Regions from separate parts of the Homo sapiens genome. Here region 1 is linked to region 2. A link means that fine-mapping ties the variant in region 2 to the expression of a gene that starts in the linked region. Tissue or cell type: nasal epithelium. Region 2 holds a variant in brackets; the other region holds the start of a gene. All regions are shown on one strand. Distances are from middle to middle.

Region 1 (8,107 bases), 200 kb after region 2:
ATTGACTATATCAGATGACAGACATCAAGATGCCAGAGCAGAGGGAGCAGAGAGGACCCTTTGCTCAGGGGTTAGCTTCCGAGGCTCCAGCTCTGATGTCTCAAAACCAATGCCTTTTTCTTCCAGAGGGGAAAAAGACTGTTTTTCAACTTTAGAGGTGTTTTACAAAACAACCTAAAACACTGATTAATCTAAATAAACCATGGTATATAGGACTCTTCCACCAAGAATTAAAGAACAGCTTTATAAAATAATTTTGTATTAAACAAATAATTTACAGTGAGAGCCTCACTTTTGTCACCACCATCAAGGAAAAAAATGTGCTGATACTTCAGCAAAAGAAAGGAAAATTCAAGAAGGAAACTTTTGATATTGAGGTCCCTTTGCTGAAGGAACAGAATAGAGTTTCTTCATTTAATGTGCATACAACTCACTTAAAGGTCTTGTTAAAATGTTGATTCCGATTGGCTGAGTTCAGAGTGGGGCCTAAGAATCTGCATTTGCAACAAGCTTCCAGGCGATTCTAATGTTGAAGGTCCGTGAACCTCACTATGATAGCAAAGGACATTATGAAAATGCCTTCTCCAGAGATGTTTAAAAATAGAAACACAGGTATATCTAATTGGTGTAATTTCCTTTAACCACTGAGTAGAAAAAAATAGATGATGTTATTCCCACACAATAAAAATTTAAATATAATTACAAGTGCTACCGGAAAAATCAGAGTACTAAACTAGGTCTTTTGCAAAGAAAAGATGCCCTGAGAAAAAGCAAAGACTGAAAATTTACAAGAAAAACCCATGAGATGCTTTACTCACTTCCACAGACCTACAAAGTTCACTCTTCTAACAGGGGTAGTTAGCCCCTTCCTTCTGGAAGAATGGTTTGCATTTCCAATAATGTAGTGAAAGAAACTACGGCTGCCATTAAATAAAGCCCAATTATAATGAAGATACTAGTTACGATGCAACATAATTAAAGGAGCATCATGTCATTGCACGTAAAAAAAATTAGGCTTTAAAATGTTCTATAAGAATATGCTATTAAAAAGAAAAGCTTAAAATTATTTCGACAAAATCCACACTGAATGATTTCCACTAATCATGTCTATGTTAGCAGTAGTAAAATCCTTCCACGTCAAAATAGTACTTCCACATGTAAAGTCATACATTCAAACATCAAGACAAAGCAACCACTCTACAAACCCTTCCAGGAAACTCTGCCAATGCCAAGCCTCTGCTCAGGATGTGTCACAAGTAGAGGGAGGTCTTCTCATTTGCTCTGCAACATCACAGATAGTTGTTACTAGTCTTGCCCAAGAGAAGTTCTTCACAGAAAACCTCAACTGTGGGAGACGACCTAGTGACAGCAGTTCCTTCACTGCCCAATACTTCTCCTCTCAGATGAAGGTTTTGGTCACTCCAGTAATGACAGAGTTACAAAGAGCTTAACCCAACAGAATTCTGCACCTGCTGTGTAAGTCAGAACAGCTAAACCTCCTGTGACATCAACACAGGATATTTCTTACAACAAAGTAAATCCAAAACGTTTGGATGATCCATGGGAACAACATTCATAAAAATCTGTACGCAACACGATTTTACACAACCAGCACAAAAAGTCTCATATTTTAATGGCTATTAGAGAAACTCAAAATAACGCACATACACCACACAATGTACATGCAGTTCTATTCTGCAGAGCCACATGAAATCAAAAGCAACTAACTTGGATTCATTAGAAATATTTAAAAATACAAGCAGGCACGCCCTTGGCTTGTAAACACTGACCTTCCCTTCCAACTAGCATATTGAAATTTCCTTTTTCACCTAAACATTTTAGGAAAGCCTGGGTTGACATTTGAAATATATCCCATTTGCCATCCCACACTGAATAATGAATTATAGAGATGGCATTTAGAAGGGAAATTCCCTGTGTCCTGGCCGAGACTAAACATGAGAACACTGGGAACCATCTCCTTCTGACTAGATGCCAGTCAAGAGGCCTTGGTGGTCTGCCCTTCTCCACCCTCTCCCCAGTCACAGCTGTGAAAAATATGTATACAAAAAATACATATAAACAAACACAAACGCAGTGTTACTGTCATAATCCCATTAATTACGCCCGGACACTTAACTTGGCTACCTCAATCAATAGAAATCTGAATACCAATTTAGCCCCCATCATGACACTCATACACCTAATAATCCTTAATAAAGCATCCAAATAATGCAACTGTACTTGACTTAGAAAAAGCAAACGATGAAAACAAAATACAAGCTAAAGGAATCATTTACTATCCATTAAAAAACATATAAATTCCTTTTAAAACAACCTACTGAATTTTAATATACTTATAAATGTCTTAGTGACATAAAACCCAAAATGCATTAATCATTTCATTTAAAAATGGTTTCCTACAGAAAAAATGCATACTTGGTATTAACCAAAGACAGACGAGGTACTGTAATGTCACAGTTGTGAAGGTCCAATTAATAAACACCAACTTTTCACGTAGAAAAAATTAATGCATAGCTGGGTTGTGGTTACAGATTATGGACGATCCACAGAAAAACGCTGCGACTCCCCACACTGCAACATTGCCTCCGCACACCACTGGGCCCAGTCCTTCCTGCAGCCCCTCCCTATGGCTCAGGTCCCCTGGTCGCAGATCAGATTCCGATCCGCAACCACAGGCCGGCTCCCCTCTGCCTGCACTGGTGATGCAGGGCGCCCCTCCGGCAGAGCGCAGCCCAAGAAGAGGTGCAGGAGGGATCATCCCAAAAGAAAAGACTCTCCCCTGCTCACACCTAGCTGACCTGGTCCTCCTGACGCCACATCCAGCAGAAGCTGCAGGACAAGGTAGCAGCAGCTCCAGGCCTCGGCCAAGGGCAGCCCCGGGCCTGGGTGGGGCCGGGCGGGGGCCGCAGGCGCCGAGCGGCCGTGCCAAGCCCCGCCAGCGAGAACCAAGGAAGCTGCGATACTGCTGCATTGTGCTGCATCACGGCGAGGGCACCGTGAGCCATCCATCTTGCCAAAAAAGCACATCCCCGCCCAAATAAACCCCACCGAATTCAATTTTCTGCTCCGCCGAAGCACCCCCACACGCACCCTGTCCTCACTTACTATCTGGCCTGGCTTTCGATTGGAAAAATAATGGACAGAGGTTTGCGTTCTGATCCCCACCCCCTCCTCATCTGATGGCAGCAGTTGGCACCTTTCCTATCACAAAAACAAAGAGAAGGCGCCCCCTAAAAGAGGGCCGTGGGCGTGGTGTGGGGGGTGATGACGAGCCAGCCCACCTACCCAAAGCAGGCCCGGAGGGTCCCTGCGCTGAGACAAACCTGTTGAAGAGAGGGTGGCAGGAGCTGAAGGGCGGGCGCAGCGGCGGCTCGGCGCCCGGAGGCGGCTCACGCCCAGCCCTGGGAGAGTGGGGACGGCAGAAAGGGCGGGGGGGGGGCGGGCGCACGAGGGTAGCAAGCGCAGGGATGGGGCGGAGGTGGGGGCGCGGGGCCGCCGCCTCCGGCTCAGCTGCAGCGCGGCGCAGCCGGGACCACGCCTGGCCGCATCCCCTGCACCGCTACGCGCAGAGCCCGGCCCTGTCACCGCCGCCCCCGCTCCCCACCCGCGGGGCCACAGAGAGGGCACCTGAAAATAGACCCTCCGGCTGTCCGCTGTCCGCTCCGCACCCACCTCCGCGCCAGGGGCCTCCGCGTCAGGGGCCGCCGCGCCCGGCTGCAGGGAGGCGCCGGCGGAGGCAGGGAGGAGGAATCGCCGCGCCGCGCCGGGGCTGGGGCCGGACGGCAGCGGTGCGCACGGCGGGTCTGCTGCCGCCTCACCGCAGAGCCTGCCGCCCCTCGTCCCGCATCATCCGAGTACCAATGAGCACCCGCGACCCGGGCTCCCCGCGCCGCCCCCGCCCGGGCTTTGCAGCCTCCCTGCCCCCACGCGGCTCCCCGGGCGCAGGGCAGGCGGGCAGCGGCGTCCTCCGGCCCTGGGCCCGCGCCCCTCCTCCCGCCCGTCCGCCGCCGCGGAGCCCACCCGGGAGGCAGCCCCAGTGAGTTGGCATCTCCCTGCCTCGGGCCCCCTACCTACCTCCCGGGGATGGGGTGGGGGCGCCGGGGTCCCGTCCTCCTCCCGCTCCTCGGCGGCCGGGCGGGTGGGCCGGGAGGCGACTCCGCGGGTCTGTCCGCGGCTGGGGCCGGGGCTCACAGGACGGGACCAGTGGGCGCTGCTGCGCAGGGCTGCGCGCTCGCTCCGGGAGGAGAGGCGGCCGAGGGAGGGACTGGAGGAATCCGCAGCCTGCACGGCAACAGCGGCACTGATTCCGGGGGCTGGGCGGGAGCGCGGGGGGCGGGGGGAGGAGGAGAGGAGGGCGCTCGCAGGGAGGGGGCGAGGGGCGGGGAGAGGAGCGCGCGGGGCGGGCGCGCGCGCACACACACACAAGCGCACTCCCGGGATCCCTCCCGCACGCCCTCCGCCCTCCGCACTCCTCCCTCCCCACTCCCGCCCGCTCCCTCTGCTTCGCCCGCCCTCTCCTCCTGCCCGGAGCCCCGCAGCCGCCCAGGGAGCCGAGCCTCGGGCGCGTCCACGTCCTCTCCAGCTGAGGCTCTTCCCGGGTCCAGCCCGGACCTCATCCTCCCAGCGGCGGGGACCGACCAGGCTGGCCGGGGCGGGGTGGGCACTGCTGCTGCCGCTACCCGAGCAGGACAATAGGGGCTTTGTCTCCACAGCCGGAGAGGGCCAATTTCACGTTTAATTTGAGGCTAATTCGATTATCGCCATGGAAAGAGGCGGTCTAATTTTCTACGTGATTTGTGCAGCCTCTTTTCGCCCTTGATGTTGCGTTCGGAATGCTGGGGAGAGAGGGTATTTAGGGAGGTTTTGGAGCGTCACTTGCTTGGTTGGTTTGAGATGCAGTTGGTGATGCCTTATAGGTTCTACCCAACTTGGAGAAGGGCGACGGCGACCTCTTCGTGGGAAACCTTGGGCGCTGGAGGATGGGTGGTGGGGGTCGTTCCTTGTGAGGTTAATGTATTCTTTTGCAAATGCTTTTTCGCCCACCCTTTCGCTTTGGGTAGCTGGGAGCAGACCCTACAAGTGGTTCATCCAACTCCTGCCTCTCAGTGCAGGCTCCGCTCGAACCTGAGGCCAGGTGCCCTGCCCCAGTCACTCCCGAGAGAGGGGTCGTCCGGCCGCGGTGGAGGGCCCCGTGATGGCGTGGGGACTTGCGTTTTCCCCTATGCGCATTCCCTGAAACGGAAACTGGACGTTTCCTCAAATTTTTGTCATGTGCCACTGCCCCTTCCCAGTCACCTGGTCTACCCCGTCAGCCCCTCAGGCTGTGTAGAAATTCCAGAACCGTCACTGTTGTGAAGAAAAGATGGTGGAATCACCAGGACCACGAATGGAAACGCTCTTTAGAAAAGCAGTTTGAAGAAACTGACTTTCTCCTTGTTCTGTAAAGTGCACAGGGCGGCACTGCGGGCATTCAGAGGGAGGAGGGCCCTTCCTGTTTGAAAAAGCCCCAGGGCTTTTTCCCCATACAGACCTGATCACCTGGATTAAAATAAAACAAAAATACACGGCAGCCAAGTAGTTTGTATCATGCTTATATCTCAGATCACTAGAACCTGGCCTGATGGGTTTATATGTTTGTATGTATTTTTAAATGAATATTTTAAAATAAAACTCAGTGAAATCGTCACAGCAAACTGAAGATGATTCTTCCTTTTAGGCCTTCATAGGTTTGAATGTTTGAACCTATGTTTACTTTTGATAGGAAAAAAATTGAGGAAAGCAAATAACATTTTTTCTCAGAAGGTGAATCAACACAACCAGACCGTAAACTCTCTTAAAGGTAGGGTTATTTCTTTCTTCACTCTGTACATATAGCAGGCACTTAGGTACTAAAACAAATTTGTTGAATTGAACACAATCAACTTGTAAGCTGCTGCCCTCATTAGGTAATAAGGGAAATCCACTAGAAAGCAAAGTTGTTTGCCTTTCACTTACTTATTTTTTTACCATGGACCCCAGCACCTCCCCACTCACAATGTTAATGAAATACCAAAGAAAACAGTAACAATATTGGGAAGTGCATCCATTTAAATTAATTCTTCCAGTGTTATTCTGAAATGGTTATTCCTTTATCACAGACAACGGTATTTAAATAAATTTTCATTTGATGAATGATTCACCTCCCTTACCCCATTCCACTCCCACTTACGTTGTTTTTTAATTAAAAAAAAAAAAAAGGCCACACACACCTTAGCAAGGTACTCTAGTAAAGCCCCAGTAATTATTCCAAAAATGTGAAAGACAAGGATTCAGAGTTCTACTGTAAATACCTGCATCACAATTTTGAATTCTTACCCTTAGGTGCAAAAAATCACCCTAGAGAACTCAGTGTACCAACGACCAAAAAGAAGTAACAATTCAAAGAAAAGATAGTACAACTGGAAAGATTATTGGAGAAGACATTTTTATGGAAGGCAAAATCTAAAAAAGATAAAAAGTCTTAGGCAGTGATAACAGCTCAGAAGGATTATTCCCATGTATCTCAGAAGCGGCTTAGTTTCTTCTCATATTAGAATCAGGGTTGATATAAAGGAACCTAGAAGTCTTCAATATCATGTTTGTAACATACTACTCTCCACTTTTAAAACCATGTGATTGCATATGGCTTTATCTCCCATCAAAATACTTTATTACAAAATTTTTACAGATATAAATTGTCATTTTAACTTTCCATTCAGAATGTAGGGGAAGGCTGGGCACGGTGGCTCATGCCTGTAATCCCAGCACTTTGAGAGGCTGAAGTGGGTGGATCACCTGAGGTCAGGAGTTCAAGACCAGCCTGGCCAACATGGCGAAACCCCGTCTCTACTAAAAATACAAAAATTAGCCGGGCATGGTGAGACACGCCTATAGTCCCAGGTACTCTGGAGGCTGGGGCAGGAGAATCACTTGAACCTGGAAGGCGGAGGTTGCAGTGAGCCGAGATCGCACCACTGCATTCCAGCCTGGGTGACAGAGCGAGACTCTGTCTCAAAAAATAAAATAAAATAAAATAAAATAAAAAGGTATTGATAAACAGTATTGTCTACTACAACCTGTTTTGTTTAGAAAAGAGAATGATACTCTAAGTATTTCCTTGGTTATATTATATTAACCCAATTGAACTCATCTTTTATTGTACTGATAATAGCCCAAAACTTTAAAATCAGAACATATTTTGAAAACTTGCATATATTTTTAAAATTCCTGTTTACTCCTAAACTTGCTTCCTTTTAACTCTGAACTAGTCTGGGAAATTTCCTCATATTTAAAATATATTTCATTTGGGAATTCACATGTATTAATTTTGCACTGGGAAAACCTAAAGACTTATATGTAAACTATCATTATGAATGAATTTTTTAAAGCACTAATAACATATTTACTCTTGCATAAAGTAATTTATTCTTTCATTATTCAAGAGATAGATATGCCTTATATTCTTCTCGGCTCTGAAATAGAGCAATGGGTAAAATAATTTTAAAAAATCATTGCTTTCATGGATCTTCCATTCTAGTAGATTATATCTAGTATTCCATTCTAGATATAATCAATCAATAAAAAAGTAAAAGATATGTGTAATGATAAATCTGAATAGATGGTAACCTAAATGTATAACAATATTTATAAAATGATCACAATAAATGGTCTCAGCTTTCTATAAAAGATCTTCACATTTTCTATGTTAATAATAATAATGATTATAAGTAGCAACCATAAAATGTTTTCCAGTTTTTAAAATGCTTTATCAAATATTATCTTATTTTGTCCTTTTGCCAGTTCTGTGAGGTAAATATTAACCCCATTCTGTGGATGACCAAATGGTCAAATGAGTTGCCCAAGTTCTCACAGCTAGTTAAGTGCCAGAGATATCTTAGGAGCTAGCATATCAGAGCTGTATGCCTGGGCATTGCATATGAATTACTCAACATAACTCTATTTTGCAAGATGGAAGAAAGTTCTAGAGATGGATGGTAGTGATGGTTCCACAACGATGTACACGTACATAATGCCACTAAACTGTATGAAAATGGTTAAAATGGTAAGT
Region 2 (8,107 bases):
CAAGATAAACGGTAGACTGGCCACCACCATGTGAACACCTGGATCTGTAAACTCTTGGGAACTGTATCTCTCACTTATTAGGTCTTATCTTAATGGCTGGGCCCAATGCTTGATTTTGAACAAAACTAATTTTGGGGGGAAAAAGGGCTACAAAAAGCTCTGGAAGGAGGGAGAATCACAAGTTTAAGTTATGTCTATGCAAACTATCATAATTAGCATCAGGGCTGAGGGAAGACTAGAAACTATGCAGTTTAATGGTGGTTTTGATTGGAACCCTTTACCCTCATGGCAATGTGGAAAATGGATTATTAGGAAAAAAGACTTGTGGGGGTGTGTGTGCGCACAAGTGCTGCATGGTGATCACCAAGGCCTTGCAAGTGACAGACTGCAGACACGTGCTTATGAGCAACAGACTACTTAAACCATTCTCTCTCTTTTCACTTTTAAAGGAGAGTTGCAGGAGGGGAAATAGACAAAAAACAAAACCCTGAGTCAAAATAATGTGAGTGGACTTTAAAGGTGACAAATCTTCTCTAGTGTGAGATTCGGAAACTTCTGGTGAGGAGGAAGTATGAGTTTGGTCTGGAAGGCCTGAGCCAGGTGTGAGTCCAGAGAGACATGGGGTTAGTATGTAGAGAAACCAGGATAAAAAAAAATTTAGTGCTGCAGGTTTGACTTGAAAGCTGCTAGTGACAGCAATGACCTGGGTAGAGAGATGTTTCCTTGAAAACGGCTAAAATTTATCATACTTGGTCAGACTGCAAGGTAGATGAAGGCCAGGGAAGCCTCTTCTGAGGATAATTCTGCAGCAAAAATTTTTTCTTTAGAGTTAGAAGGAAAGAGAAAACCCCAAACCAGTATGCAGAGATCATTAATGTTTATGCAAATGAATCACTAACCAAGAAAACAAGGAAAATAAAAGGAACAAAATGAATTTTAATGGACATGTGCTTTAAGCATGCCAACAGACAGCACACCACTAGAGACACACATCAAAAGCAATCACAGTGCTATGATCAAATGATGGGTACATGTGAACACATCCCTCGCAACCCCACCCCCCACGTTGCTTCTCTTTAGCGATTAGTCCAGAGTGCTTTAGTGGCTGGGCACACCCGAGATACTTAAATCAGGAGGTGAACATGAATGCAACGTGACAACTAGTAGCACAGAAAACACCTGATTGGTATTCAAAGTGCACGAAGCAATGCTATTTTCAAGTTCACTGAGTCTCTGCGTCATCACTCAAAACAATAAAAATACTTTTTCTTCTCATACAAGCCAATTGTAATTAAAATTTTGTTATGACAAGCTACATTTAAAAATCTAGATAAAAATAGGCATGATAGCAAATGCTAAGAACATCATAGCACTCTTTTCTTGTGTGCTTATGTGGTTCCTTTTTTGGAGGGTCTTCTAGATACAAAAAGTGTCAAATTGGGTGTCAGTCCTGATGATACAAAATTTAAACACACACACATATATATATGAAAACATCACATATATACATATAGATCAATGAAACACAAAATGTAACTTGGAGCCACAAACACACATTAGAGCTCCCTAATGACCAAAGACAAAGCAGAAGTTTTTTTGTCTAAAATGAATTTTGATGTGTTTTAAGGCAGAGACCCAATAATGATGCATACTACCCCCAGAACATAAGAAGCTTGGCATCTATCTATATACCCATCTACAGTCAGAAGTAGATAGATATGTACATAGAGATAAGGAAAAACAAACAAGATGCTATATGACGTTATCCTGACAAAAGAAAAAAAAGACATGCATCATGAAATAAAAAGACAAATCAGACTTAACTCATAGAGAACACATATCAAAACAGGTTTCTGATTCCACTGACACATCTAAATATGGCAAAAGAGCAAGTGAATGTCTCACAAGGTTTTGATGTATAATATGGATTTGGTTTTGTTTTTATCGGTACAAGGAAACCATCTCTGTCACCAGCTTTTATTTCTAAGGAAAAGGATTTTTGTGAAAACATTTTCAATTCCTGCTGGTGGCCTGATAGATACCATCCTAAAAGCTTCCTTTATCAGAGAATTCCACAAAAAGTCTTGAGAAAATGAACAATGAATCAGAAGATTAATCCAAGATGTACAGTGGAGTTTGTCTACAGAGACACTGACATGACTTCTGAAGCCAGGGGGCATGCGAGCGCTCCCAGGCACGGTCCACCAAGTGCAACGTTCAAGTAATCAGGATGAACCACAATGGCTTCTGTTCCATTTGTTTGAAAAATTAAAACAGTTTGACACCCTGAAGTCATCGGCTGAATGGAGAGGCATGGAAGTCTGTGAGGCAAGCTTCTAAAACATGCTGAGAACGGCTGTCACCTGCCGCGTCCCACGTGCCAGCAGCACTGACAGGGAGCGAGACAGAGGTGGCGGCAGCAGTCAGCGGGCACTTTACTCCTGAGGCTGGCTGCAACATCTGTGCAAGGAAGCCTACAGTTTTCAATTCAGGACTTGGCAGAAAAAAAGAGAGGAACTAGTTTGTAAAAAGTAATAAATGACCCAAGGGTCTCAAAATGTATGAGATTGTGTGCCTAAAATTAAAATAGCTTCCAGAATATATCTGACTCCCTTTTTTGTCATCTTCAATAAATGAATGCATCTTTCATGGAATGTTACACAGCTGACTTTAGGTTTTAATCTTATTACAGAATGTCTCCCTCCTCATACACCAGTCTTCCTAGTTAATAGTAAACTACTATAGGTTAATAACATCTGTAAAGGCGGCTACATATAGCACAGTACTGTGCCCTGTTAGAATAACTGAATGTGTCATACCTGTTAGATTCTAGTTTTCTTCTTCATTATGCTGTAATCTCATTTAATTTCATTTCAATTACTCATGTAAGGGTTTCGCTGTAAAATCTTAATAAAGTAAAAAGCTCACAATAAATAAACAAAAAATAAGTATGCTGCTTTAAGGCAAGTGGGCATCCATCAGTTAAGAGACTCAAACATGAATTAAATGCAAACAAATATGAAACCAAGGAAGGCTATGAATTAAGTAAAAATTTTAACATTTTGGGTGAAGTGGAAGCCAAAAAGTCAAAACCCAGAGGATTTGGAAAGGGTGATTCTTGACAAATGGTAGTGAACTTCACAGTCCAGACCATGGCTGGTCACTGGCTGTCCGTCTGCTATTAAAGTTTTTGTAGTTTTGGTAGGTTTGAGAGCGGTAACTAACCCGTGGAGATCCCTGTTCAGCTGGCAAACCGTTTTGGGAAACTTGTTCTCCTTTTGAAGTATCCCTGTTAGGGAAGAGGGGAAAAGGAGGAAGGGAAAGGAAGAAGAGGAGAAAGAGGAAACAGTAAGAAAGGGTGGGAGAACATCATCACTCAATTTTATTACGTGCAACCTTTTCACATAATTTAATTCTTTTTAAATCTGAAACTTCCAAGTGTTTTAAATAGACTCTAGACAGAAAAATACGACTACAGGAATGCCCTATGCCCCGCTCCACCACATAAAGGCAGCATTAGAGGTTGCCATGGAACTCTTACCATAGCAAAATAATTAGCCCTTTGGAAGTAGAGAATAATTGCTGCCCTCTGTGTGAAGTTACTTAGAACTCTCAAAAAACGCATCACCACAAAATCACTGGCCTAAAATCTGGGCAGTTCACTCCATGCATTTAATCATATGGAAGTTCTGAGCATCCTGTGTGTGTGCACACAGGATGAGAAAGGGCACTGTCTACATTCTACTTCTGCCACCTACATACCTATGTGACTGTGGACAAATCAGTGCCCTCCAAGGTTATTTAGGGATAACTGTACAGCCTTTAAACAGTCTATGGAAGCAATCAGTAGGCAGGGCATGTGGTTAGGCCTAGCAATGCAAGGCTTCAGAAAGATGCCCCATAAACCTCATTGGCCACCGAGGCTAAGGGTCCAGCCTCTGGAGCTGCTGGGACTCACCACTGCTGCTGGGACTCGGCTTCCTCTGAAACCTTCGTGCTCGGCTCGGGAGAAGGCGGCCGCCTCTTCCTCTCCTCTTCCTCTTGCTGTCTGCGCACTTCCAGTAACTCCAACTAAGAGAAAATAGAGTGATGTTTGGTAGAGTCCCAAACTCTGCCTCTTTTCAGAAAAAGGTTCTAGGAACCCAGGAAGTCCTCCTGTCTAGTTTGCTAAACTGGACCACACTGGACAAGAAGCTCTAACATCCTGAGCCAAATGGAATTAGGTTCACAGGAACTGCAGCTACAACCTAAAACTACAGGAAATAGTCTATTCCATGGGCTGGCAAAATTCCTGTGAGTTGTTTGTAGGACCCCTGGGAGCTTGGGTTTAATTTCTAAAGTAACTATGCAACTCTCAACTCTGCTGAGGAGAAAAGTACCTGAGCCTGAGGGTTCATGCTGGACTCCCCAGGAGAGCTCAGACAAACACCAGGGACAGAGCTGCAATAATTCTCAAGGAAGCCGCTTGTGCTGTGGTGGGGATCTGTGTTCAGCCAAAACCCAAACAACACATTAAAAAGCCACAGAATAGTCTAACTGAAACAAAGCCATTTCATGAGTCATATGGATGTACCAGAAGTACTCTGTTTTAACACAAATGTATGCAGGTACATTTTAAACACCCAGAACTGGAAACCAGAAACACCATTTTTGTACACTGCAAAGGATCAGCTTTCTACCAGGAATGCAAAAGTCTTGGGAGAGGAAACACCAGTGCACAA[A/T]TCCTATTCTAAGGCCTTTATGTTGACAGAAGAGGGGATCAGGACTGGGGACTTAACAACAGGCTAGGATTAAGCTTCCATTTGATGGGAATTCTAATTCTGAAATTCTGAAGAAAATTTTGAGGCCATGCCCCCTTGAGAACAAAGCTTTTATGAGATAGGGGAGAATGAAAGATTCGAAGAAAAAAGCAAACACCACCAATCAACCCCCAGGCAGGAAGCTACTATAAGGGATCATAAATCCAGGTGCCCAGGATGTGACTGAGGAGGTAACAGTCCTGACCCTCTCCCTAGGTCCTGCTCCACAGGAGCCACCCATTTTAAGATGATCTTCACTACTTGAAAAAAACCCAAAAAACAAAAACAAGCAATCGTGTGAATTCCCTGGTCTAAGAGGCAAGCAGGAAGAAAAGGCTGCCCAGGGCACCAACAGACAAAGGGCCCAGCGGCCACTTACTGTAGTCAGCCTTTCCAGGGCAGAGAACCTCTCATCCCAGGTTGCTGCAGACTTTTCAAATGCCTCGTGGCGCTTGATGAGCTTCTCCACCTCGTCCACGCTCTGGCCTATCTCTCGGCTGGATAGGTACGGCTCCTGTCCAAGCAGCCAGGCCTCGGCCACACTGGCGTCTCTTGAGAACTGATGGACCTCCAGAACTGCACAGGGTACCATGAGTTAGTACACGTTGACCAGGAGGTGCCGGGCAGTCATATGGCCTTACCTCTTGGCACTGCTGCCCTCTGGTGATGGCTACCTGCATAACCAGTCTATCGTCTACTCTAAATTAGCCCTGTCCAATGTAAATGTAATGTGAGCCACACTTGCAACTTTGACTTTTCCAGTAGCCACATTAAAAAGAGTAAAAATAAATAGGTGAAATTAACTTTAATAGTGTATTTCACATAATATGTATAAAATTATTACAACATGTAATCAATATGAAAAAAACTATTGAGATCTGTTACAATCTTTTTTCTTCTAAATCTAAATCTGATGTGCATTTTACGGCACACATTCACTGCCCATCTCAATTTGAGACATTTCAAGTTCTCAAGAGCCACACGTGGGAAAGCAGCTATCATACTGCTCAGCGCAGGTCTACAGTGAACGCTCTGTTCACTCGGCCCCACTTCATGAGCTAAGCCTTCAGAGACCTGCAGGAATTCACAATCTACACGTAGCCAGATGGGCAGGCATTCTTAACTCGCCCTCTTTTGGGCGGTAGTTGTGTGTTTTATTTTGGGGGGTTTAGAGGGAGGGAAGGATATGGGAACACTACAGATGGTGGGGACCAAGGCTTTTGCTCTGTTTCATTCTGTTCTTCCACCTGTGAGGAAATGGAACACTAGTTCCAACATAGTTATGAGAAGGTAGGTTAGAACCAGGCTTTCTGCTATAGTTAACACTGATTTTCACTTCATTTCATGCAGCAAAGCCTGGGATCATTGAGGTAAAAAATGGACTGTGGGCAGCGTTGGTGTCCCAAGGAGCTGGCTAGCTATCTGCTTTCAGCACCTCGGTAGCCCCCAACATGACTACATGAAGAAGATGCCACCTCTGCACTAGGGACTTACTGGCTTTTCAAGGCAGGGACTGTGCATATCACTGTGTCCCTGGTGTACAAGCTGGTGCCCGGTTCAGTGTGTAATGTGGGTTTTGCTGAGCTGAATGAAACTGCCCCACAATTCTCAAAACATACAGACCAAATCCTCCTGCAAAGAATGGTCAAAAAGTGGGATTTCTGAGGGCTCTGGGCCCAACAGAGTGTGCCGTCAAACCTCTCAGAAAAGGCCCTTGCATTTGGTTTCTAGTAAACCCCCATAACATGCATAGATGGAGTTAGAACATAAGGACAGAGCCCAGAACTCCAACAGAGAATGGCAAAGCATGGTAAGCAATGCTAGAATTGCGCTGTTAGTGCTCATACCAATTATGAAATGCTATTCCTAATACTGTACATTATAAACCCTGTATTAGCTCACATATTCCCTTATAAAATGAGAATTAAAAATAGAATCTAATTCACAGGGTCACTTTGGGGAATAAACACAGAAATACATTAAAAAACCACTTAGAACAATGCCTCATTCACAGCAAAATTTTAATAGATGTTAGTTTTTATTATGTTATCAACATTCCACTAAGAGCACCAAATATGACTTAATGAGATCAACTTTCCAACTTGATTCTGTAGTAAGAATTCTTGAAGACAAATGGGGGAGAGGGCTTCTATCTGTATTCTCCCAGGGAGGTGCCCTCTGTCATCCCTAAAGAACATCCAAATCCCACCTATGACACTGAGATCAATCAAGAGGTGAAAAATGACTACGCCATAGGAAGCTTCTTAAAAGTAGTATTTACCATGAAATGGTGAAACGGGGCACTAAAAAGGCATCTACAACTCGAACAATCTTTAAATGATAACATTAATGAATTAAAGCAAGAAAATAAACGTGCATGTTTTCCATTGATACCCAAAAGAGCAGAAAGATAAACTACATCCTTACTCAGTCTTAACCATTCCCATCGGTCTTCCCACTTGTCGATCATTTCTTTCCTCTTTTCCGTCAACTGCAGTAATTTTTCCTTGATCTGTATGAAAAAGAGGATCCCCGGGACATCTTAATGGAATGCACCACATCCTCTTGATGGGGTCATTTTATACTAGAAAAATACATTTTCTGCAAAGACCACCATTAAGCTGGGAGATATCTAAGGACTGCTCAGTCTGTCTGAGGACTGGGAGAGGAAAGAAAAGCATAGCACTGCTCCTTCCAGAAGGGGCTGGAGGAAGGCGCGGAAGCCCTGCCAAAGCTGTTTTGTCGTGAGGAGGCTCCCTGCGGCAAACACGTTCAGGAGAGGGACAGCAAGACGGACAAAGCCCTGACCTCTTGGAGAGGATGCCCATTCCCATGCAGGGGGCCACACACGCACCTAATAATTTACCTCTTTATTACCACCATCCTAACCAGAATCACCAACCATGCACTCAACAGCAAACTGATCTAGGGCATAGTCAATGGACATTGGCGTCACCTAGAAAGAGTACTGATTGGGGAGGATGCGGAGTCCATTTTGTAGCCCTCAAAAATTGTCTTCTGTGCCAGAGATTTACCAGCCTGGGCCTAGAGTCTTGCATAATTGCATTATTCTAGACGCACAGGAAAGGAGTTTTAAAACATATGTGTGTGTGTATAAGAATGTAAACACAGTATCTCTGACACACACAAACATATAAAACAAAGTCATTTTACATCTTGACGCCAGCTGCAGCTCCAAAGCAAAGTAGCAACCTACCTCCTCAGATGCATAGTGTTTTCTCGCCAACAGGGATTTCCCAAGTTCAATGCAGGTTGTGAAACTGTCATTACGTGCATCAATTTCAGCT

What was found. PIP is the estimated chance that this variant, and not a neighbour inherited with it, causes the effect.
Region 1: it holds the start of SPTBN1, and the variant in region 2 is fine-mapped to the expression of SPTBN1 in nasal epithelium (TOPMed, PIP 0.93).

Annotation. Positions count from the first base shown.
Region 1 is chr2:54,452,507-54,460,613 of GRCh38, reverse strand. It overlaps SPTBN1 (spectrin beta, non-erythrocytic 1), which reads right to left and starts at 4,287. Exons shown (of 36, transcript NM_003128.3): 1 at 4,096-4,287.
Region 2 is chr2:54,655,118-54,663,224 of GRCh38, reverse strand. SPTBN1 (spectrin beta, non-erythrocytic 1) reads right to left here. Exons shown (of 36, transcript NM_003128.3): 28 at 8,017-8,107; 29 at 7,227-7,311; 30 at 5,179-5,375; 31 at 3,959-4,071; 32 at 3,226-3,289. Among named protein-coding and RNA genes, the nearest start is that of SPTBN1-AS2, 21 kb to the left of the region's middle. The variant A/T (reference allele first, on the strand shown) is at 4,722.